Linked DNA regions of Homo sapiens. The protein of the gene in region 6 interacts with the protein of the main gene of each other region in a biochemical or structural test. Each region holds a gene or a part of one and is shown on either strand. Other genes may lie near its edges. The genes, in order: NEK6, SMTNL2, MARK2, DDX17, TSSK2, PTPRD and ABLIM1.

Evidence for each region.
Region 1: the proteins of PTPRD (region 6) and NEK6 form a complex in vitro, tested with the Homo sapiens proteins (one study listed by BioGRID and IntAct).
Region 2: the proteins of PTPRD (region 6) and SMTNL2 form a complex in vitro, tested with the Homo sapiens proteins (one study listed by BioGRID and IntAct).
Region 3: the proteins of PTPRD (region 6) and MARK2 form a complex in vitro, tested with the Homo sapiens proteins (one study listed by BioGRID and IntAct).
Region 4: the proteins of PTPRD (region 6) and DDX17 form a complex in vitro, tested with the Homo sapiens proteins (one large-scale study listed by BioGRID).
Region 5: the proteins of PTPRD (region 6) and TSSK2 form a complex in vitro, tested with the Homo sapiens proteins (one study listed by BioGRID and IntAct).
Region 7: the proteins of PTPRD (region 6) and ABLIM1 form a complex in vitro, tested with the Homo sapiens proteins (one study listed by BioGRID and IntAct).

Annotation. Positions count from the first base shown.
Region 1 is NC_000009.12:124,348,449-124,351,948, forward strand, and holds part of NEK6 (serine/threonine-protein kinase Nek6), read left to right. Parts: intron 1-2,388; coding exon 2,389-2,499; 3' UTR 2,500-3,500. UniProt on the Homo sapiens protein: Protein kinase which plays an important role in mitotic cell cycle progression. Required for chromosome segregation at metaphase-anaphase transition, robust mitotic spindle formation and cytokinesis.
Region 2 is NC_000017.11:4,587,529-4,591,028, reverse strand, and holds part of SMTNL2 (smoothelin-like protein 2), read right to left. Parts: intron 1-3,500.
Region 3 is NC_000011.10:63,894,610-63,898,109, forward strand, and holds part of MARK2 (serine/threonine-protein kinase MARK2), read left to right. Parts: intron 1-549; coding exon 550-729; intron 730-970; coding exon 971-1,024; intron 1,025-3,500. UniProt on the Homo sapiens protein: Serine/threonine-protein kinase. Involved in cell polarity and microtubule dynamics regulation. Phosphorylates CRTC2/TORC2, DCX, HDAC7, KIF13B, MAP2, MAP4 and RAB11FIP2. Phosphorylates the microtubule-associated protein MAPT/TAU.
Region 4 is NC_000022.11:38,499,812-38,503,311, forward strand, and holds part of DDX17 (probable ATP-dependent RNA helicase DDX17 isoform 1 precursor), read right to left. Parts: intron 1,470-3,500; coding exon 1,319-1,469; intron 1-1,318. UniProt on the Homo sapiens protein: As an RNA helicase, unwinds RNA and alters RNA structures through ATP binding and hydrolysis.
Region 5 is NC_000022.11:19,129,889-19,133,122, forward strand, and holds TSSK2 (testis-specific serine/threonine-protein kinase 2), read left to right. Parts: upstream 1-1,419; 5' UTR 1,420-1,511; coding exon 1,512-2,588; 3' UTR 2,589-2,734; downstream 2,735-3,234.
Region 6 is NC_000009.12:8,520,503-8,524,002, forward strand, and holds part of PTPRD (receptor-type tyrosine-protein phosphatase delta isoform 1 precursor), read right to left. Parts: intron 3,023-3,500; coding exon 3,011-3,022; intron 1,045-3,010; coding exon 775-1,044; intron 1-774.
Region 7 is NC_000010.11:114,441,776-114,445,275, reverse strand, and holds part of ABLIM1 (actin-binding LIM protein 1), read left to right. Parts: intron 1-1,141; coding exon 1,142-1,247; intron 1,248-3,489; coding exon 3,490-3,500. UniProt on the Homo sapiens protein: May act as scaffold protein. May play a role in the development of the retina. Has been suggested to play a role in axon guidance.

The DNA.
Region 1 (3,500 bases), about 120 Mb from region 6:
ATAATGGTGAGGAAGAAAGGACAGGTTTCCTGGCACAGCAGGGTCAAAAGTGTAGATACATGTTCACACACTCTCTGCACTGTTCCTAGGTGAGTCACCTAACCTCCCTGAGTCTCAGTTTCCTCACCTATACAATGGGGATAATATTAAATCTTCCACACAGGATCAGCATAAGGATTAAGGTAAGGCACCAGGCTAACACTGCCACCACCATCCAAAGTGGCCAATGGATGGGGCCTGGCTCAGTCAGTGTTCACTAAATATCATGTGACCCTTATTTCTGTTCAAGGTCAACGCTAGTGGGTGAGTCTGGGGCCTCCGTGGGCCCACCCCATAGGACCACAGGCCGTCACCTCACGATAATAACAGCTCATGTTCAGACTTCCTGAGTTGAATCTTCCCCTCACCCATTTACCAATAAGGAACAGACAGACACAGGCAAGTTAAAAAGACCGGTGAGGCAGGATCTGAACCCACATGCGCAGCCACGGAGCCATCGTGCTTCTTGATGGCATGTCTTTGGTGGCCCATCAATTAGCTGGGGTGAGGCTCTGGAAGGAGTGCCCTTGCCCCGGCCAAACTGCACAGGGCAGGTCCTGGGTGCTGCGCTTGTGTCCAGGCCGGAGGCTCCTCGCAGGGCACCTGTGCTGAGCCTGTGCTTGCTGGCGTTGCAGACTCCAGGGCTAGAGGAGCTCGAGTGTCGGGCGCTGCACAGTGCCCTTCCTCTCCTGGCTCCCAAGTTCTGACCTGCACTTTTGGAGGAAGTATTTCTCCTCCCCAGTGGGAGGAAAAACAAGTTGCATCTCTTTACAAAGTTAATAGTTGCCATTTGCTTTTTTCCTTTCTCATCTTCTGAATTCGGACTTGTGTATGATTCAGAAGCTTGAAGCTGTGCAACTGGAGCTGGTGACAACTCTGTGCTTTGGCTGTCAGTCTAGAAATGGGAGTCGCCCTCTCTACTTCAGTGATGAGGCTGAAATGAACATTGAAGCCCCTGTCCCAAGTCAGCCCTTTCCTGGCCACGAGCCCCCACTCCCCGGAGCACTGGCTCTCGCCGGGCCCCATGCTTAGGAGTGAGAGGTGGTGCTCAGGAGCCCCCAGCACACCCTATTTTAAAGTTATATCGCTGCTTAGAAATGAAAATAAGACACTTTTATTATTTTTCTCTTGAATTCTGAAAACTTCAAACATGCACTTATTGACAACTGTGCGTTTACTTCATAAATTAGTTCGGGTCACAGACACTTCACCTGAATCTGGTTTTCTTGGGTATTTTAACCTGTCAGAGGCCAACCACAGGTACCTTCCCCCGAATATTGTAAGGTTCAGAAAACAGCTGTCTTGTCCACAGGCGACTTCAGACTCCGGGAGTGGCCTAGCAGGCTGCAGGCCCTGTGTCACCTGGGCTTCTCGGTTGTAAGGCATGCACGCAGGTGCGAGGGGATACCCTAAGGCTCTGTGGCCCAGGGAGAAAATGCCCCATCAGCTGAGAGGAGCCCTAGTCTACAGGAAGCCCAGGCCCCATCCCTCAGCCTAACGGGCCTGCGCAGCAGTAGCCCCCGGGCCTCCAGAACGTCCCGTGGGCCCTTCCCAGTCCCTGAGTGAGTGTGGCCACTGAGACCACCAGAGCCCCCTCTGGTTCAGGACCACCCAGCTTCCTGCTGCTGCTGCTGCTTCGGCTGCTGTGGCCTGCGGGGCTGACCACCCCTCCAGCAGCAGGTATTTAAATGGAAACCAATGGCTGTGAGCCCGTGATGCAGGGTAAGATGTAGGCATTTTAAGGTCATTATTTTAATTACCATTAAAATAATTGGCACTCCGGCTATCAGAAGAATGGAGGCGATCAGAGGCGCAAGGCGCCCCTCCCCCACCTCGGGGCGGGAGCAGCCTTCAGTGTCTGTATAATTAAAAGCTCCGTCTTTCATGAGCACAATAAAGGGGCCGGGGGTGGGCAGACTGCAGCCCTGCTGCATGTTAATGCGTTTATTATGATCAATAAGCCCTTGCCTTGAGTTTTGTCCTCTGGTTTGGGCATCTGCGTGACTGACAGCAGACACACACACACACACACACACACACACACAATTTGCCCAATGGTGTGGACAGCTACAAGTTCAAAATAATTTGGAGGTTAACCATTCTTAGGGTCTCAAAGCACAGCCTTTGGGACTAGACAGGCCTGGGAGGGGTACTGGCTAGCCCTTGGGAGCCATGCGGCTGCGCACCCCTTACTTGCCCCAGCTAAACACCGTTCTTCAGCTCTAACGGGGACAACGGGACCATCTAGTTGCTCTGAGGATGAAGTGCCTTCATGCAGACAGACTGTGGAGTGCGGAGCCTCAGTAAGACTGCTTTCTTGAGAATAACACACCATTCTCTCCCCTGCAGTTACGAGAACTGGTCAGCATGTGCATCTGCCCTGACCCCCACCAGAGACCTGACATCGGATACGTGCACCAGGTGGCCAAGCAGATGCACATCTGGATGTCCAGCACCTGAGCGTGGATGCACCGTGCCTTATCAAAGCCAGCACCACTTTGCCTTACTTGAGTCGTCTTCTCTTCGAGTGGCCACCTGGTAGCCTAGAACAGCTAAGACCACAGGGTTCAGCAGGTTCCCCAAAAGGCTGCCCAGCCTTACAGCAGATGCTGAAGGCAGAGCAGCTGAGGGAGGGGCGCTGGCCACATGTCACTGATGGTCAGATTCCAAAGTCCTTTCTTTATACTGTTGTGGACAATCTCAGCTGGGTCAATAAGGGCAGGTGGTTCAGCGAGCCACGGCAGCCCCCTGTATCTGGATTGTAATGTGAATCTTTAGGGTAATTCCTCCAGTGACCTGTCAAGGCTTATGCTAACAGGAGACTTGCAGGAGACCGTGTGATTTGTGTAGTGAGCCTTTGAAAATGGTTAGTACCGGGTTCAGTTTAGTTCTTAGTATCTTTTCAATCAAGCTGTGTGCTTAATTTACTCTGTTGTAAAGGGATAAAGTGGAAATCATTTTTTTCCGTGGAGTGGTGATTCTGCTAACATTTTTATCTACGTTTTATAACTTGGTGAGTGACGATGAGAGCCCTGCACCTGGCCAGAGTGTCACAGGCAAAAGGCATCGGGAAGCAGGAGCATCTTCTTGGCAGCCAGGCTGGGCCATCTTCTCCTGGACACCTGCTGTGTACCAGGAACTTCGTCACCTCCTTGAATGCTGGCGGTTCATTTCATGATCAGTGTTAAGCATTTTCCTCCATGGGAAGGAAGCATGGGATATAGAAAAGCGAAGGGCTGTCCTTTACAAATTCTGGTTCTGCAACTTCCTAGCGTGACTTTGGGCTTGGGCAAGTTTCTTAGCCGTTCTGAGCCTTCATTTCCTCATCTGTACAATGAGATTAATAGTACCTATCATCTACCTTCAGGATTGCTGACAGACAGAATTTGAAATAAAATATGCAAGTTAGCTAATACAAAAAGTAGATGATCCAAAAATGGTAGCCACTCACCCTTCACAAA
Region 2 (3,500 bases), on a different chromosome or scaffold from region 6:
AGGGCACTCCCAGCAGAGTGATTAGTGTCTGCTTTTGCAGAGAGACATCAAGGCACAGGTATCCTGATCATGCCCGTCCAGGACGCAGGCAGATGGAGAAGTGCCCTGCCGCCCAAGCTGCCTGCCCTGCCGCCCAAGCTGCTGGCCCTGGGTACTTGACGCCTTAGACAAGAAGGAGCCCAAGGTCCTCGGCTCTGTGTTTCAGGCACACCCTTCAGAAGATGCCAGAGAGTGGAGACCAGATGGCAAGACACTTCACTAGTCCTGGGCAGGAACCTGGGGAGGGGAGATGGGGCACTGGGAGGGCCACGGGCAAGAAGGACTCGGAGCTTTGGGGAAAAGGGATCTGGCTGGGAGACTGGGTGGACATGGAAGAGGAAGGGTGCCAAGCCTCTCCCAAGCCCAGACTTGGTGGGTCAGGGCAGGTTTAGGGGCTAAATGAGGGTTTCAGTTGGGACATGTTGAGGGCCTGGGGCACCTGGAGCATCAGGGAGCTGAGGAGGTAGCTGGATTTTTGAGTCTGGAGTTTAAGAGAAAAGAAGGACGAACATGGAAAAACAGGAGTCAGGGGCATGCACTGGGCTCCTGGAAGCCCAGCAGAGGAAGAGCAGCTTAGGGGCCCTGGGATGAGGCCCCCACATTTCAGGAAGCAACAGAGCAGTCTGCGGAGAATGAGGAGCAGCCAGAGACGTAGGAGGAGCCCCTGAAGAATGGTGAGAAAGCCAAGGCCAGGAAGGAAGGGAGTCAAGAAGCCAGGCACGGGGCCAGGCGCGGTGGCTCACGCCTGTCATCCTAGCACTTTGGGAGGCCGAGGCGGGTGGATCACTTGAGGTCACGAGTTCAAGACCAGCCTGGCCAACGTGGTGAAACCCCATCTCTACTAAAAATACAACAATTAGCCAGGCATGGTGGTGGGTGCCTGTAATCCCAGCTACTCAGGAGGCTGAGGCATGAGAATCGCTTAAACCCAGGAGATGGAGGTTGCAGTGAGCCAAGATTGCACCACTGCACTCCAGCCTGAGCAACAGAGCGAGACTCTGTCTCAAAAAAAAAAAAAAAAAAAAAAAAAAAAAAAAAAAAAAAAAAAAAAGCCAGGTGCGTCCAAAGGCAGCCTGGGGTTGAGGAAAAGGTGAAGAGGAAATCCAACCAGGCATCCATTGGGTTCAGCAAAAGAAGAGGTCATGGGTGATCAGAAGCGTGGGGCGGGGGACAGGGGGTTGGGGGACAGGAGATGGCCTAGCAGAGGGGTCCCAGAGAAATGAAGACAGCGCAGTAACTTTAGCCCTGAGCGAAGCCAGGGGAAAGGGTCTGAGGGGTTTTTCCAGAAGGAAGAGGCAAGACCACATTCATAGGGTGAGAAAGGTGAGGGGAGCATCTGCAGAGCGGGACCACTGGGGAGCTCACAGCAGACAGGACCCAGAGCCTGGGAAGAGCCAGCCTTGGAGAGGAGGCGACCCCTGAGCTCTTGATTCAAGAGTGGGAGGAGGAGAGGCCAGGCCCACTCTCAGAAACGCAAGAAAAGCACAGGGCGTCTCCCAGCACGCAGAGCAGAACGGGTGCCCCTAGAGCCACGCTGCGGCCGTGTAGACCATGTCGGCAGGGGGAGGAGAACCAGCCAGTCCAGCTGGAACCCCGGCCCCCACAGTCACCAGGCTCTGGGGTCTCCGTGCCCCCTCACCCACCCTGCTCTCGTCTGACAGGTTCCACAGGTCCAGGCGGGGCTCTGGGGGGAAAGGCTGAGGGTGAAACCATTTTCCCAGGAAATATGTTTCTCTATAGGTGGGTGGGAGGCCCTCCGCAGATGCCTGTCCCTGCACGTTGCAGCCCCTCAACAACCCCCATGATGCCCCAGGGGACCAGGCGCTACACCAGACTGGGAGTAAGTTCTATCCTGGTTAGATCACTGCTAAGGGTTCTCCGGCAAAGGGAGGAGGGGAAGGGGCTGGGCTAATGCAGGCTGGGGTGTAGGGCTGAGCCCAGACTCCCAAGCTCCCCTGCCCCACGACTAGAAGCATTCGTCACCTGGGGAAAGGGGTCTGCCCGTGCCTTAGGTCAAGGCGCAAGGGGCTATTCTGAGACCATCCTCCAACCCATCATCACACAGATGGGGAAAGCAAGACGTGGGGTGGGGCAGGGGGAACCCCTAAACCCCACACCATGACTAAAGGTAGTGGCAGAGCCAAAGTACGGGACTCGGGTCTCCCACCCCAAACCAGGGCTCTGTCCACAAAGTGCTCTGGCCTTCTAGGGGGCAGAGAGGACAACTCAAGGCAAAGTTGTCTTCCAGGACCTGGGTCAGTATGAGCCCCGGCCCCATGGGATCTGTCTTAGCCAATGAGTGTGAGGAAAAGGCGGGGGACTGGGGTCACCACCCAGTGGGACCTTCACAGAACTCAGAGGTCTTCAACCAAAGGGCTGGGCTGGAACGAGCTGTCCCCGCAGAGTCCCCAGTGGGTTACTGCTCTCCTTTGATGGGGGCAGCCTGTCGCCGTCATGCGGAAGGAAACCAGGGAGGGGCCTCGGTATGCTGGGACCGGGGCAGAAATCGCTGGAGAGCCCTGGGGCTGGGGACAGGTCCTGTTGAGCTGGCCTGGTACCCCCCAAGATTCCCCAGCTCGGCTTTGTTTTGAGAAAGGGGAGGTGCCCCATGAGGGAGCCCAGGCCTGAGGCACTCACGGGAAAGGCGGAAGGGTGATGAGGTAAGTCTGATTTCAGGGACCTTCTTATTGGAAAAGCTTTTAGACATTTTTGTAGGGGAAGGAAGAATATTTCAGGCCTTCTGGGTGCTGCCTGATCTGCACGGGCCCATCCATGGGGACGAGACCCACGCAGGGCCAGAGCCCCATCCTAAGACAGTTCACACTGCTGACCCGGCCCTCCTCCACTCACAACACCGTTTGAAAGGACTTAATTCAAACTTCTCCCTAAAGCATTTAACTCTCTTATCGCACAGTGTGTCTGGGAAAGGAAGGCAGATAAGGCGAGTCTGGCTTCTTTCATGGTCGGGCCTCTGACATGGGGCTCCTGGCAGCTGTTCCTGGGGCCTCCGCTGCCTCGGGCATAGGGACCCAGTGGCTCCAGCTCAGCTGAGGATGACATTTCCAGGCCACAGCTCTGGCCCAACCTGCTGGGGCCTGGGCCTGGCCTCAAGCTGCCACCATCCACCCCCGGCCCCAAGCTGGCTCTCAGCTCCCTGCTCCCAGCCAGACAGGATTACTTGATCAACCCTTCCTGTATTGAGTTCAGGGGACATTTATATATTGGAGACAATCTACCTCCAATCCTTCAGTCCCCAGTTTGAAAGGAACTGGGTCTCTAAATGTCATTGCTTGTTACAGAGGGGTAGTGTGACACCAACCTCTACAATGCCAGGTAGTACAGCCATCCCTGGCTCATGTGGATGGGATGAGATTGTCCCACCCAGACCCCCACTACACAGACACAAAGTCTGAGAGGTCAGACACCCAGCAGCCTGGTGTGGGGCTGTGACTCTATGTCCA
Region 3 (3,500 bases), on a different chromosome or scaffold from region 6:
TGCTTGAACCCGGGAGGTGGAGGTTGCGGTGAGCTGAGATCGCACCATTGCACTCCAGCCTGGGCAACAAGAGTAAAGCTCTGTCTCAAAAAAATAAATAAATAAAAAATAAAGGTTCATGTAAGTTTTGGGTGGCGATGAGGGCGTTGAAGCAGTTATGACCATGTAGCTACCATGACTTTGAGATGCAGTCTTCTCGCAGTGTGCACAGGCAGCATGGAGGGAGGCAGGGTACCGGCTCTCCCTCCTGAACCAGACGAGCTGTTGTGTTGCCAATGGAGGTTCAGGGAGCCAGTGATGGGACAGCTCTGCTCCTGAGCTTTGCCACCCACAGGACCTGGGCACTGGACCTTATGATGTGCTTCTCTGGAGTGAAGACTGGCTGTCACCTCAGCCCCCTCTCCTTTCTTCTGCTGCCATATCATTCTTCACATGCCTACCAGCCCCCTGGAATCTGCCCCTGCACCCTCATCCCTTATATATTTTGCAGAGAGCGTTTAGAGGACTGGAAGTGTGGCATGTAATGGTATCTCTGTTTCCACCCCGCAGCCCACCTTGGGACACCTTGACTCCAAGCCCAGCAGTAAGTCCAACATGATTCGGGGCCGCAACTCAGCCACCTCTGCTGATGAGCAGCCCCACATTGGAAACTACCGGCTCCTCAAGACCATTGGCAAGGGTAATTTTGCCAAGGTGAAGTTGGCCCGACACATCCTGACTGGGAAAGAGGTGAGCACTGGGACTGGGGACATGGCAGCACCTCCCAGCCCTGTTGACACTCCAGCAGGTGGTGATGGGACTACTACTGCAGCCAACCTCTTGTTTATCCGGCAGAAATGAGATCTGAGATATAGGGGTGCAAAAAGCTGTGGGATGAAAAGGAGTAAGAAATATAAAGGAGGAAGTAGATTGGAATCCTGGGTTTCGCTGGTCAGAGAAGTGATTTGGGGCCTTTTTGTCTCATCCTCAGGTAGCTGTGAAGATCATTGACAAGACTCAACTGAACTCCTCCAGCCTCCAGAAAGTAAGCACATGGCACCTCCTGTCCCTTTTTTTTTTTTTTTTTTTTTTTTTTTTGAGTCAGAGCCTCACTCTTGTCGCCCAGGCTGGAGTGCAATGGTGTGATCTCGGCTCACTGCAACCTCCGCCTTTTGGTTTCAAGCGATTCTCCCGCCTCAGCCTCCCGAGTAGCTGGGATTATAGGCACCCGCCACCACACCTGGCTAAGTTTTGTATTTTTAGTAGAGATGGGGTTTCACCATGGTAGCCAGGCTGGTCTCGAACTCCTGACCTCAAGTGATCCGCTCGCCTCGGCCTCCCAAAGTGCTAGGATTATAGGCGTGAACCACTGCCCCCAGCCCACCTGTCCCTTTCTAAATCTCTCTTCTGGGGTCAATGATCTACTGACCCCATTTAGACCTTCTCTTGAATTCCTAGTTTAAATTTTCTGGCCATTTCGCTCACCGTCCCCCAACCATTCCCTCCCATGGCTCTGCTACCTTCGGGGCTTTGGTTGGATCATCTGTGGTGACTCCTCCTGAGTGGGCTTCCTGGCCATAGGCACTGGCTCTTGTGAAGTCTTTCTGTTCATTCCCAGCCACTTGGCCTACCTGTCTGACCTACTTCCTGCATCTTGTTATCTTCTGGCTTGTGGCCAGCCCTATGCAAAAACACATGTTTGTAGCCACTACTAGAAACACGTGCAGCTACTTCAAGATCTGGAATGATACAGGGGAGTGGCTTTAGAAATACAAGAATAAGAGGAAGCAGGGAACCTGCCGGTGGGTTCTGTGCCAGCTACCTTTTAGAGAATGAGCTCCAGCTCAAATTTTCTGAACAAAACCTAGTTCTGTTCATCTTGTGGCAAATCAGATATTTTCTCCATAAGCATATTGTGGCAGTTGAGTTAGGAGAAGGCATGATTCGTGCTAACAGAGTCAGATAGTGATACTGGGAACCTTAGGAGTAAGGGCTGAGGATTGTTGTTGAGGGCGATGCTCATGGAATTAGAGTGGATGAGTTGTTCTCCGGACATGCAAATAGCCAGAACCAAGGTGTTTCCTATTTATTGTTACCCCTGGGATCCCTTCAAGGGTTCTTCAGTTCAGTAGAAACATTGTTGTCATCATCAGGGTGTCTCTGCTTGAAGCTTTCCAGGAGGAAGGGAAAAAGGGCTGCTTATGACATCCTGGCTCCAGCCCCACAGAAGAAGTCAGCGTGGGGTAGGCCATTTGGCCTTGGGAGCAGTCTAGCCTGCCATCGTAATAATCGCCAGTCCACCAAGCCATCTTATTCCTGACCTTGTTTTTCTCCCTAATTCTTCTTGGTTTTCTCCCTAATTCTTCCTGACTCTCTGGAAGGCACCAACACCAGACAAATAGAGCCATTTTCAAAACCTTTTGAGACTCTTTGTTACTAAAGCCAGTCTGATTCTGGCCAAAAATGTGATCTCAGCAATGATCCCTGAAAAATGAACATTGAAGAAGCTAGCCCCCTCAGGGGTCTAGACAAGCCCAGAAAACCCCAAGTTCTCCCAGAAGAATGTCACTTCCATGCCAGGTGAGCAGCCTCAGGGGAAGAAGCCCTGGCAGCTGCCTCTGGCCCTATTTCAGAGCTGCTCCCCATTACTGCCCCAGAGGGTGGTATCCAGGCTTTTTGCCTCTCCATCCAAAATATCTGTTGGACCAGGGAAAAAAGTAAGAAAAACCTAGGCCCTAATAAAGGGTAAGGTCAGCATTGGGTTCCTGAGGATTGGAAAGCCTTTTTCTTCTTTTCCTTTCTAGCTTAGGAAAGCTCTGGGGCATCATTAAAGGGGAAACAAATGTATTCACTTTATTCCATAAACCATATCTTGAATTAGGGCTTCCCCTACCCCCAACAAAAACAACAACAAAAACTAGTTCTGTTCTTTGTGCAAGTGATGAGGCCTGAAATTACAAAAAGCCCCACCTCCAGTTCTCTGGCCCCCGCAGAGGGGAAGGAGTTCATTTCTGTCATCTTTCTTTATGGAAATACATGGTTTGGAGCCCCTGGTTTTGTTTCACAAAGAGAGCGTGAGTGTGTGGAGGTGGATTTGATTAAAATTGGCATCAGCTATATATAGGAGTGGCTTCTTCTGTCACCACCCTAGAGGCCCAGGAAGGAAAGGCCTATCCCCTAGAACAGAGCCCTCTGACTACTGTAAATCAGAAAATGATGGGGTCCCCCTCTGGTGCTCTACCACCCCTTTACACAGACCAAGCTGGGGTGTGTACTGTCACTGAACCAAGGCAGCAGCTCGGATTCTGAATATTCACGCACACGGGCTCACACTCCCTCCAGTAGAGGCACCCAGCCAAAACCTGCCTGCTGTTTTGGGGCTGGATTTGGTAGACGCAGCAGAGGGCATGGCTGGCTCATCCTGATGCCATCCCGGGTAGCACGTCCCCACAGCCAGCCCTCCTCCAGCTTCCCCAACTTCCCAGCCACAGGGAAGGCCGTGCATGAGCTAGACAACCACC
Region 4 (3,500 bases), on a different chromosome or scaffold from region 6:
CTGAAAGAGTAACCATTTCATGTGTAGAGTCCAAAAAACAATGGTAATGAGGTACAAGAAGAGACAATGTTGGCTGGGCACGGTGGCTCCCACCTGTAATCCCAGCACTTTGGGAGGCTGAGGTGGGTGGATCACTTGAGGTCAGGAGTTTGAGACCAGCCTGGCCAACATGGTGAAACTCCGTCTCTACTGAAAAAAAAAAAATAAATAATAAATGAACCAGGCGTGGTGGCACATGTCTGTAATCCCAGCTACTCGGGAGGCTGAGGTGGGAGAATTGCTTGAACCTGGGAGGCAGAGGTTGCAGTGAGCCAAGATCATGCCACAGCACTCTAGCCTAGGGGACAGAGTGAGACTTCACCTCAAAAAAAAAAAAAGCCAATCTATCTTTTTCACTAACAGATGAAAAAACATGACCTAATATACAATATTTCAATCATGTATAATAAACAGATTAGTAAGCATTATCAACAAGAGAACAAATTAAATGCATATTTAAACTGGTCCCCTTTTATGAGTATTAGGGGTCTTAGATAAGAATGTAAGAAAGGCTGGGCATGGTGGCTCACACCCATAATCCCAGCACTTTGGGAGGCTGAGGCGGGCAGATCACAAGGTCAGGAGACGGAGACCAGTCTGATCAACATGGTGAAACCCTGACTCTTGCACTCCAGCCTGGGTGACAGAGCAAGATTCCGTCTCAAAAATAAAAAGAGGCTGGGCGTGGTGGCTCACGCCTGTAATCCCAGCACTTTGAGAGGCTGAGGCAGGTCGATCACCTGAGGTCCGAGGTCCGGAGTTTGAGACCAGCCTGCCCAACATAGTGAAACTCCATCTCTGCTAAAAATACAAAAAATTAGCCGGGCATGGTGGCGGGTGCCTGTGATCCCAGCTACCTGGGAGGCTGAGGCAGTAGAATCGCTTGAACCCAGGAGGCGGAGGTTGCAGTGAGCCAAGATCACACCATTGCACTCTAGCCTGGGCAACAAGAGCAAAACTCCGTCTCAAAAAAAAAAAAAAAAAAAAAAAAAAAAATCAGCTGGGTGCAGTGGCTCACGCCTGTAATCCTAGCACTTTGAAAAGCTGAGGCAGGTAGTTTGCTTGAGCTAGGGAGTTCAAGACCAGCCTGGGGAATATGGCGAAACCCGGTCTCTACAAAAAGGAAAAAAAAAAAAAAATTAACCAAAAAATTTTTTAAGAAAAATATCACCACACTAGAATAAAATGTAAAACGGCAACAGTAGCGTATGAATAAACTCTAACCAATATATCTACTTGGTTCAATAATCTGTACATTAAAACACACATGTAAACTTACTGGTGTCAGCCTTGCTACTTCCGGATGTTCCACATAAAAATTTTTCTCAAACTTGGGGAGCTCACTCAAATCCCACTTTTTTTTACGCAAACGCTCCCCAGGATTACCAAATTTCTTCGGGGGAAGGCCACCACCACCTCTTGCTCCAAATCTAGGAACAGAATTTTTAGTTAGTTCATCAGTATTTTTAAAGCAACGTATCGTACATGCCATAAGAATATTCAAAAAGGATGGAGTTCTAGGGATACTACCAGCCTACCTCCAAAAAGACCATTTTATTTGCTGTGATTTAAAGGTATGGAGAAATGTGTAAAACCTCCCTTACTACCCAACAATAAATACTGTTTATGAATATAGCTACAATAGGCAAAAAATTAAAAATCCCTTTATTGAGAGAAATACATCCTAGGGATTACAATCACAGATTCTGGATCCAGACATGGTTTGAGTTTTTATTCTGCCACTTACTGTATAATTTGAAGAGAATTATTTAACTTCCACACACCTTAGTTTCCTATGCAAAGTAGAAATAATACCACTTATTTCAGAGGCTGCTGAGAAAATGACCTAATAATGTGTAATGTACTATAAAAGTATCTGGCATAGCCAGCACTCAGTACAAGTTAGCATCATTTCATTCAACAAATAGTTATTAGGTACCAAGTTACTAGGTACCAAGTATGTATCGGCTACTGTTTGAAGTGGTGCTGTGCTGGAGTTACTAAACAAAACAGACACAAGTCTCTATTTTTGTGTAACAGACATGCAGGCAAAGGATGACATTAAGTTAAGTTTCAATTAAAGGGAAGATTGTGGACAAGAAGGAAGATACACTCCAAGCAAGTCCCTCAATCTTAGAATAGCTTCTTGGGCCTGCTCCCCTATTAAACTGTGATAAGCACTCCACCTGTCTGCTTATCTGCAAAGCAAAACTGGGTCTTGGAAAGGACTGGTAGACTGGTCTTCATTTTTAGCTTACGCTAATAAAAGAGCTGAGCCTGCCGGGGGCAGTGGCTCAGTCCTGTAATCCCAGCACTTTGGGAGGCGGAGGCCAGTGGATCACTTGAGGTCAGGAGTTTGAGACCAGCCTGGCCAATATAGTGAAACCCTGTCTCTTACTAAAAACACAAAAGAGTAGCCAGGCGTGGTGGTGCACGCCTGTAATCCCTAGCTACTTGGGAGGCTGAGGCAGGAGAACCGCTGGAACTCGGAAGGCGGAGGTTGCAGTGAGCTGAAATGGCACCATAGCACTCCAGCCTGGTAGACAGAGGGAGGGTCCGTCAAAAAAAAAAAAAAAAAGCTGAACATAGATTTATGACCTTTCCTTCTTCTTTGATCTCTACTTTTACCTTCTATCTCCTTCTTGTTCCCAAATGGTATTATTAATTTACAGAGAAAAAAACACTAACAAGACTTATTTAAGGCTTTAACACTCAACTAATTACTTAAGATCAACTTCTTGCTTTTTATATACCTTTCACAACAGACAAGCTCAAGAGGAATACAAATATGACCACTAGCCAAAGCTAATATTTAAGAAATCAGAAGCTACTTTTCCTAGAAGAATCTTAACACTAAGATGGCCTTAATTTTCCCTATTTCGATCTTGTAAAGTACAGGTCTTTGTTTGGCATACAAACTGTATAGCATTTTCTCAGTTTCTTTACTCCTTGTAAAATATTGTACTGAATTTAGTTCCCTTTTCCCACTCTAACCCACTTGTAACTTCATCTTATATAAAGTTCCACTTTATCATTGATAGGCAAGTAGGTGTATTATTCTACAGGGCCTCAATTTCCTGCAATTCAAAGCCATTAGAACTCTGGCTTAACCAGCCAGACATTCCTCTAAATACATACGTAACAAAAATTGATGGCAGGAGATTTTATTGGGATCACTGGATACCTACACTCAACAGGCAGAACTTGGCTAATTCCATTTATACCACTACTGAGACAGTGAAGACAAATTAAGAATCAGAACAGGAAGAGCACATAGCATAGGGATACCCGTGTCAGCGACATATTTAATATGCCCCTCAGCTTAAGACTCAATACTGAACAGACCAAAAGGCCACCTCAATTGCCGCTCCCGCCACACTTGCAAATGAAGCAGCTAAATAAGGTACTTTTCAAGAGGTAGAAAGTCTTTGGATTATCACTCTTGCAAATTATAAAAGACT
Region 5 (3,234 bases), on a different chromosome or scaffold from region 6:
CACTTTCAGAAAAAGCCCTCTCTTCTCCCAGGCTCTCTGCTGCCTGGGTGCCTTCCTGCCGCCTCTACCCAAGGGAGGCCCTGCCCCACCCCTCAGACATGCAGCCACCTGCCCTGGACCCTGGGCACCCAGCTGGCATGCACTGCAGCCCCGACCCACCCATACACAGGCCCTTGCTCGCTGGAGCAGCAGCGACTCACCTGCCCGGCTCTCTACCCTGAGGGGCCTGCCGCCTCTGCTCCCAAACACAGAGCTGCTTTCGTCTACCAGGCTTGGCACCACTGCCAGCCTGACTGGTCCAGGGCAGTCCCTCCCAGGTACCACTGTTCCCAGAACCAAGCCAGGTCCAGCTGCATTTTCTTGAGGCCCAATAACGAGAAGCAGACAAACTAGGAAAGAAGGGAGTTTATCACTGTAACTGGATACAGGGAGAAGGCTGGAGATAATTCCAGCAGACCAACTCAAAGTGCTACAATTTTCTTACTGTTTATATAGGTTGGGGTTATGTGCCTACATGCAGTACAGCAATCACCTAAGTCTACTGGTAACTAATTTTGTTCCAAGGAGAAGGTCAGAGGCAAAAAAAATGCTTGCTAAGTCCGATTAAAAGGGGCCCAGTGCCTTCAAGGCCTGTCTACTGTGGTACCGGAGTGATTATTTCGATTGTATCTCCTTTACAGCTTGGTCCAGAGAGCTGCCTTAGACTATCCAATTGATCTATTCAAACAGCTGCCTGTTCCCTTAACTTGTCTTCAGATTTTGTCGACCCGAGATGGGTCCTGGCACTAGGAATGTAAAACCGTTCCTATTATTTTGGCTTGCTCCAGCAAAAGAGAAGCCCATGCAAGGCTCCTGCTGACCATGTTTCATTTCTAGCTTTGATGTCTGGGCACTGATTTCCCTAGATTTAACTATGTGCTCAATGGTAAGGCAGTGCTGTGGAAATCTGTCTGTGTAACTGGGGTGCTATGCAGGCCTGTCTGGGTGACTGTCAGGGACAACTGTCCTACCACACCAAGGACACAGCCCTGGGGGTGCTTTTCTTCATAGCCAAAGAAGCTGCAGGAAACCCACCCTAGTGGGACAAAGACCAATGCAGGGTCAGTCCCCACAGCCAGGTGATGCAAACAGGCTGGACGTGGGCCGCCTCCCCTCCAGCTTGACTTGTGACAGGGAAACCAATGCAGCAGCAGCAGGGCCACCAGAGTCCTGTCCTGGGGACAGGCTTCCTTCCAGCGGGCGGGGAGTGGGTGCTCCTGCCAGACCAGCCTGGCTTCCACGGTTCCAGAGACCCTGTTCTCCCTCAGCCCAGTCCCCGCCCCCACTCCTTGGCTTTATGAGTTCATTGGCTGAAGTCACCCGGAGACAATGCTGAGTGTTCCACCCCTGAGTCGAAGCCCAGCCCAGGGCAGCCCAGCCAGACGCCTCCGGTAGTGTAAATGAGGACAATGCCTGCTGGCCCACATGACGGGGGGATGTAGACGGCAGCGGCGCCAGTCGCTCCTGGCACCATGGACGATGCCACAGTCCTAAGGAAGAAGGGTTACATCGTAGGCATCAATCTTGGCAAGGGTTCCTACGCAAAAGTCAAATCTGCCTACTCTGAGCGCCTCAAGTTCAATGTGGCTGTCAAGATCATCGACCGCAAGAAAACACCTACTGACTTTGTGGAGAGATTCCTTCCTCGGGAGATGGACATCCTGGCAACTGTCAACCACGGCTCCATCATCAAGACTTACGAGATCTTTGAGACCTCTGACGGACGGATCTACATCATCATGGAGCTTGGCGTCCAGGGCGACCTCCTCGAGTTCATCAAGTGCCAGGGAGCCCTGCATGAGGACGTGGCACGCAAGATGTTCCGACAGCTCTCCTCCGCCGTCAAGTACTGCCACGACCTGGACATCGTCCACCGGGACCTCAAGTGCGAGAACCTTCTCCTCGACAAGGACTTCAACATCAAGCTGTCTGACTTTGGCTTCTCCAAGCGCTGCCTGCGGGACAGCAATGGGCGCATCATCCTCAGCAAGACCTTCTGCGGGTCGGCAGCATATGCAGCCCCCGAGGTGCTGCAGAGCATCCCCTACCAGCCCAAGGTGTATGACATCTGGAGCCTGGGCGTGATCCTGTACATCATGGTCTGCGGCTCCATGCCCTATGACGACTCCGACATCAGGAAGATGCTGCGTATCCAGAAGGAGCACCGTGTGGACTTCCCGCGCTCCAAGAACCTGACCTGCGAGTGCAAGGACCTCATCTACCGCATGCTGCAGCCCGACGTCAGCCAGCGGCTCCACATCGATGAGATCCTCAGCCACTCGTGGCTGCAGCCCCCCAAGCCCAAAGCCACGTCTTCTGCCTCCTTCAAGAGGGAGGGGGAGGGCAAGTACCGCGCTGAGTGCAAACTGGACACCAAGACAGGCTTGAGGCCCGACCACCGGCCCGACCACAAGCTTGGAGCCAAAACCCAGCACCGGCTGCTGGTGGTGCCCGAGAACGAGAACAGGATGGAGGACAGGCTGGCCGAGACCTCCAGGGCCAAAGACCATCACATCTCCGGAGCTGAGGTGGGGAAAGCAAGCACCTAGCATGACAATGGCCCCGTTGTGTGTGGTGGGGGTCGGGGTTGGGGGGCATGGTGCAGTCGGCCTTCACGTAAACTAAGTAGGCAGGTAGGATCTGAAGAAGGCACAGGTGCAAGTAAAATTCGTCAATTAAACCACTATTTTGATTACGTTCCATTAGCTTTCTTCCACTTAGCAGCAAAGACGTTCCTTACTGACCACCAAATAAACCACAGGGTGTGTGCAAGCATCAAGAGTGCCCAGTGAGGAGTGTTTTTCTCTGGGACTCAGCCAACCGCCCCACCTGACACACAGTGGTCTCCGGCCTAGGAGCACAGGACAGATGCTCAGGTACAGGCAGAATCACAGTGTGGCCTGGCCTTGTGGGGGACAAGAGGGCCTCTGCCAGGGTCCACCCACCAGGCCCACACTGTCTCCCTCTGACCTGGCCTTGTCCCCAATGCCCTGGGGCTGGCCAGCTCCAGTGGTCCACGACTCCCCCTGGCTTCCTGCAGTTCAGCCCCCTCTGACCTACCCCCACTCCCTCACAATCCCTCGCTCAGCATCCTCCTCTTCCTCTATTTCCTGGAGTCATGTGAGATTTCTGTCCTCAGCCCTCAAGTTCCCTGCCCTGTCCTCCAGGGGCAGCCCCAGCTGAGACCTCCCCGTG
Region 6 (3,500 bases):
ATTTGTGTTCATTTTGCAATAGTTCTAGCCATCTGCAGAAAACTTAAGTTGCCCTATGTCTGACTCAATTTGCAAACACTTTCTAGAATTCTATAAACACTAGGGGAAAAAAAAACGGTACCCTTACATGCTTGTACTCTTTCTCTTTAGTTCAAAAATATTCATGTAATATAGTACTTTGGTTATATTTAGTCTGTTTTTTAAAGGAAAGAATATTCCTTGAGCACTCATCTATGCAAGGTGAAAGATAAAACTACAACAGAATATACTCTTACTTGCCTTTTGATTTTTAATAGTAGGGCTCACCAAAAAGTTAAATCATCTATTACTAGACTATGTTGATTTCAACTTTTTTTTTCTTCTTTTTCCTTTGTATTTAGAAATTTTAAGCATTTATTAATGCTCATATTGACTTTTCTTGGGGTTCTTATCAAGGTTCTGGTCTAGTATGTAGACTGTACACATCAGTCCCACCATAATGGTCGACCATGTGTAAAATTCCTAGTTCTGTCTGGTTAGTGCCTGGGCCTCCATGGACTGTCTTTTAATATTCTGATGATTATCTCTACATAGGCTGCCAGATACTTCCAAGAAAAAATCCGCCTATCTAGGCTTATGCATGTTATATAATACCACAGATATGATTAGGTTATACACACATTTAAAATGCTGAATAATGAATTATTTTAGATTTTCAAGGATGGGCTTTCTAGAGGCATTAGTCACTTGGCTTGAGTGTACCCAGATCCTCAAAGCATAATCCATTGAGCATACCTTTGACAGTGATCTGTGCTATTGCTTCAATGACACCCAGTGTTGACATAGCAACACAGGTGTAATTTGCTGACTGTCTTACATCATTCAGTTCTAGCACATTTCTTCCTATTGGCATATCATCTTCAGGTGTCAGATCTTCTGCCCCCAACATCCACTTTACATAAGGCATTGGTGACCCCACGGCCACACAGGTGATATTAACGCTTCCGCCTGGCATGATTTCATGATTAGTGGGTGGGATAGAGAATCTTGGTGGGACACGGCGAACTGGAACAAAACACAAGGGAAATGATAACATATACAAGGCAAGAAAAAGTGGATTATTAAACACATGACATGCACCGTACAGACACGATTCAACAATTGAAACATTGTGGATTGTCCAAAAACAAAACATAAAGAAAAACTGTGGATAATACAGACCATACAAGTATGGTGTGTGTATACACAGAATTATTTATTTAGTTTAGTCATTGATATCTTAGACACACTAATACAAAAGTTGATTCAGACCTACAAGGGCCCCACAAAAAACTATCTACAAACTAACAATACACAAACATCATGCATAAGATAAACACAAAAACATATACATGCAGGCATATAACAATGATTCTATGCAGGCATGTATATGCAGAAAAGGGGGCTGGAAGGTCACCAGCATGTTTAAGTTGAGTATCAAAACCAACTTCAGTGCTGTGCACTTCCAGTTGATGTGAATGTAGGTGTGGGACCACACTGTCACATCCCAGCCCTGGAAAACATCACCTAGAGTACACTGAAAGTGCACTTTATGTTTTCAGATTCATAGTGGATGCAGCCTCAAGACCTCACACTAACACTGGAACAAACACAGAAATGTATATACATATTGATTTACAGTCACAGAAGAAGAAACAGGCTAACACCAGTAGAGATACTGGATTGGGTCATGCAAGGCATGCACAAGATGGAATCTCAAGGCCCGTGCTAAGGATATTGAAAGAATGGCTGGAATCCAAGACAGCAATGACCGCAGAAGAAATAAGGGGGCAATAGAAATAAACGTGAAAGGGGGAGGTAAAGTATAACGATTGAAACACAGGGACTTAGGGGATGACAGGGTTGAAAGACAGAAGATTAAGCTCAAGTTGTTAAAGGTAAGGATTGCAAATTCAGAAAGGGAGCTGGGTGTTTCACATACAGGATTCCATTCAATTCATATCAAAGGTAAAACAACATAAATGACAACAAAATCTTTTAAAAGGCTTTTTATGCCCACATTCAAATTGAGGGACACTGGATCTAAAACATACAGCAGGACATGACATTAAGAGAAGAGATCATATTAAAGCAACATAACACAGAAAAATTACCAAGCAATTTCAGTTCAGTGTTCCTGCTTCAGATAATCTGCAGGTTTATGTGTGTTTAAGTAAATGTGTTTTGGATGTGATACAAGGAGAAAGTGAAAGATAAATTGGTTTCATCTGGGGCTTTTACTGGCAAAATGTCATACCATAAGAATTTGAGATCTAGAGGGTAATCTTTAGGGAGCACACCTTAAATACATTTAATAAAGATTTTTTAAAAATTATAAATAAACTGATAAGTAACCTCATAACCCCAAGAAGAAGATAAGTAATTCTGTCTGAAAACTTTTTGGCTGCTCTTAAGGTCGAGATAAACCTCCGCTTATTTGAGATGGCTCACTGCAATGGCCTCATGGGTGAATGACAGTCATAGGAGAAGAAGAGAAAGCTAAGCATGCCTCCTGCAGCCAATTCACAGAGGTTACACAAAGCAAGCAGGAGCCAGTGTAGACTCTGAGGTATCAAAGAACATATCAAGAAAAATGGAGGAGAGTTTAGTCTTCATGCTTGGGATTAGGGGAGAAACTAGAAAAAGTCATTCTATGGGCAGCAGGCATCCTTATAAGACAGAAATTAAAGGCAGGGTGGGAGATGGGGACAGTGGAGCAGGAAGGAAAGCAGGAACACTGACCAAGTTCACTGGACCTTACAGAGTTAAGTGTTACCAGTTACCATGCACCCAGGTACATTCTCTCCCACCATGCACCACAGTTAGATACCACCAGCAAGCACCAGAAGCCATGGCCAGGGCATTCTCTGCTAAAACATACCATTAACCAAAAGAAGAACACAATGCAGCTACATTCATTTCATTTGTATTCTTTGTTATTGGTTTAATTAATAGTTTTGTAAGGTGGGTAAAAAGTAAAAAACACACCAACCTTCTCGCAGCTCTGAGGGATGTAGGGGGTTTGATGCAGAACACAATGAAATGAGGAAAGGAGAAAAACAAGGGAAACACAGAGAGAGTAAAAAGGCCATATCAAGGCTTTCAACTGCTACTTGAACATCTTTATTCGCTCTAGTTCATCCTTCCTATCTCAGCTGGAAAAGTTAGCAATATCTCACAGACTAACATGGTATTAGAAACAATAGCTAGCATCATTTTGAAATTTTCCATGGAAGAAGGTACACATGCCTCATGCAGCAAGGGAGGTCACTATTGTGGAAAAAGGATCAAGGGACTTTCGAAGAATTTAGAGAAGAAATGACTTTCTTCATATTTCCCCACCCCAGACTCCATAAAAAAAGAAAGGAGAGAAAAACATCCCCAGGGAAACAAAATTACCTCTAACAAAAATTTCAAAATCAAGCTAGGTATTTTCTTAAGGGAACCCATCCTATTGTAACTTAAAGCCCTCTCAGTCTTTT
Region 7 (3,500 bases), on a different chromosome or scaffold from region 6:
CTAGTTACATAAGATCTATATTTTTTGAATGACTACTATGTATAAACCATCTAGATAGGCAAGAGGTGGTCCCAGTCTTCAAGGGGCTTGAAATCTGGCAGGCAAGGCAAGACAGGTGTCTGTTAATAGTAACTAGAATATGGCAGAATACCTGCTGGGCTCTAGAGGAGATGGCATTGGTGCTGGAGGTCAGAGGGGTGTGGAAGGTTTGGGTTGTTGTGGGAAGGAAAGAGAGACCACATGGGGGCATGTGTGCAGTGCATGTGTTGAAAGGCTGCTGGAGGGCCAGGCAGAGCAAGGTGGTATCCACCCAGGTAGTGCCACACCTTCCTTCCCTCATGCAGTTCTGCTGAAGGAATGACTGTGGGATTGAACATTTCTCCAAGTCTTTTCCCAGGATGTGGGCCAGGAGAAAAGGAATGAAAGGAATGGCCACCATGAAGGGGTCCTCTTCATACCCTCCTTCCTGTAGCAAGGGCCTGCAGCAGCCCAGAAGGACAGTCTGTTATCAGTCAAGAGGCTGCTGAATCCTTTCAAATGATGTTTTCTAAGCATATAGGAAATGCACGTGATATTAGTCAAAGGATACAAAGTTGCATTTATAGTATGATCTCAGTTTTATATGTGTGTATACAAAAATACTAGATAGATATAAATCAAAAGATAGTGTTATTTCTGAGTGACATATTATGGGTTACTCTTCTTTTCTTCTAGATTTTCCAAAATCTGTAAAATTAGCATGTATTACCTTTATTTCTTGTTTTTAAACAAATCAAGGCAATTTCTTTTTAAAGGATACCAGCCCCAGTCTTCCCTTCCCACATCAAAAATCCACACACACTCACACATGCCTTCTGAGGTCTCCTGGCTCTTTAGGGAAAGCAGAGGAAGGAAAACGTTCTTCTAACACAGAGCCTGACTTAGGGAAATGGAGCTTTGAAACTGAAAGGGCTAAGAGGGTTTAGGGTCCCAAACTTGACCTACCTCTTCAGGAACTACCAGGCTCTGGGGCCACATGCATTCAGGCCCTCCAGCAAGAGAAACTTCTTGTGGGATCTGCTACAAAGAAACTGCAGCTCCATGAAAGTAATTGCAAGCTTTGCTTTCTTTTTTTTTTTTTTTTCCTTTTTTCTGTGAATAGCTTAACTCAGGCCTGGGACAGTTGATCTTGAAAGAAGAGATGGAGAAAGAGAGCCGGGAAAGGTCATCTCTGTTAGCCAGTCGCTACGATTCTCCCATCAACTCAGGTAAGCAGCAAACCCCCAACCTTCCCTGATTCGAGAGCCAGCCACCTGCTTGTAAGGCACCTGCCTTGACTGTTCACTTGTGGTGGAACCTACAGAGTATTCCACGGGAAAGGAAGTGTGGGAAACCCACTCCATGTCAAATGAGCTCATAAGCATGTCATGGGTCTTCCATAAATGTGTGTTTCCTTTCTTCTGGAAATGGGTGAACCCTTGGAGGTTCTCAAAATCCATGAAGGCCAATCCCCATATACTAGGTTTGTCTTCTAGAACACTCATCTCCAAGGGAAGCAGCAAAAGGAAATCCTCTAAAAAACATGATGCTTTTCTTCTTCTTCTTTTTTTTTTTTTTTTTTTTTAGATAACATGAATAAGACATTTTCTAAGCATTATGATTTTACATTAATATCTTCAATAGAGGCCGGGTGCGGTGGCTCATGCCTGTAATCCCAGCACTTTGGGAGGCCAAGGCAGGCGGATCACCTGAGGTCAGGAGTTTGAGACCAGCCTGGTCAACGTGGCGAAACCCCATCTATACTAAAAATACAGACATTAGCCAGGCGTGGTGGTGGGCTCCTGTAATCCCAGCTACTCGGGAGGCTGAGGCAGGAGAATCACTTGAACCTGGGAGGTGGAGGTTGCAGTGAGCTGAGATCACACCATTGCACTCCAGCCTGGGCGACAAGAGTGAAACTCCATCTCAAAAAAAAAAAGAAAAAAAATCTTCAATACAAGAACTGAGGATGAACAGTGTTTTTGATACTTTTGAAGAAGATGACTTATACACTGGGCTGAAATAGCCTATCAGTGTATTTTCCCCTGTATCTATTTGTCATAAGCCAATTCTCTCTTAAACCACAAGATTTCTTCTCTCATATTCTGAGCTAGAGCATAATTTTCTCCTCTAAGAGTTCCTTTAAAAATGCATTTAGTGGGGAGACCAAGGCGGGCAGATCACAAGGTCAGGAGATCGAGACCATCCTGGCTAACACAGTGAAACCCCGTCTCTACTAAAAAATACAAAAATCAGCCAGGTGTGGTGGCGGGCTCCTGCAGTCCCGGCTACTCGGGAGGCTGAGGCAGGAGAATGGCGTGAACCCAGAAAGCTGAGCTTACATTGAGCCAAGATTGCGCCACTGCACTCCAGCCTGGGTGAGAGTGAGACTCTGTCTCAAAAAAAAAAAATGCATTTAATGTTCACTCCATGCAAGCATTTTTGCTAAACATTTTATTTAATGTTCACAACATGCCAGTGAAGTAGATGTGGTTGTTATTAGCAACTGCAGCATTTTCATCTCTATTTTAGAAATCAGGAGGCTGGTATAGAAATTGAGTTAACATACCCAGCGTGATACGCCAATAACTAGCAAGACTAGGATTTAGAAGTCCACATATTATAACCCCGGAGCCCACACCCTTACCTGGAATTCCCGCTACCCTTCATAGATGCCTCACTGGCATTGATCTTGGATTCGGTGGTTTACAAATCTTTAGAGTTCCTTGGAATTCTGAGATTCTGCTCTATAAGAATGTATAACATTGTACCTGCATAGATGAAGAAATGAGGACTTCAGAAAGATTAAACACCATGTCCGGAGATACAGAGGTATTAAGTTGCAGAACCAGAATTCAAGCCCAGGGCTGCTCCCTCTCAAGCCCAGCAGCTTATCAGGCTTCCATATCATTGACAGATACCCTGTATCAGGCCTCCCAGGAGGCCAGCTGTAGATGGCTGGTAGATCTTGATAACATACAGGGTTGGCTTCCAGTTCAGTTACTGCTGCCTTATCAACTGGGGCATGGGCTAATGTATTCAGATATCCCTGATTTACATCCTTGCTCAGCTGTTTAGAAGCTTAGTAACTGTTGGCAGGATATTTTTCTTAGCCCCTATTTCTCCTTCTGTAATATGGAACTAATAATCATAGTGTTATTAGGGTTATATTGAAGATTCAAAGAAATAAAGCATGCTGAACACTTAGCTCCATGCCAGAGCTATAGGAAGCACAGCCAGCTTCAGCCCCCACTCAACCGCGTGGACTTGACTTTCCCTTCCCTCCTCAGTCATATCACTGTCCACCCACTCCTTGCAAATATGATGGCATATTTTTGAACATTTGAGCCCAATATGATTTGAATTTTTTTGGTATTTCTATCCTGTGAGGTAGAAGATACTGCCAATTTCATTAAAGGATTGGACCTTCTGATTTCCTAACAATTGGTTTTTTACTTTTTTCTTACTCAGCTTCACATATT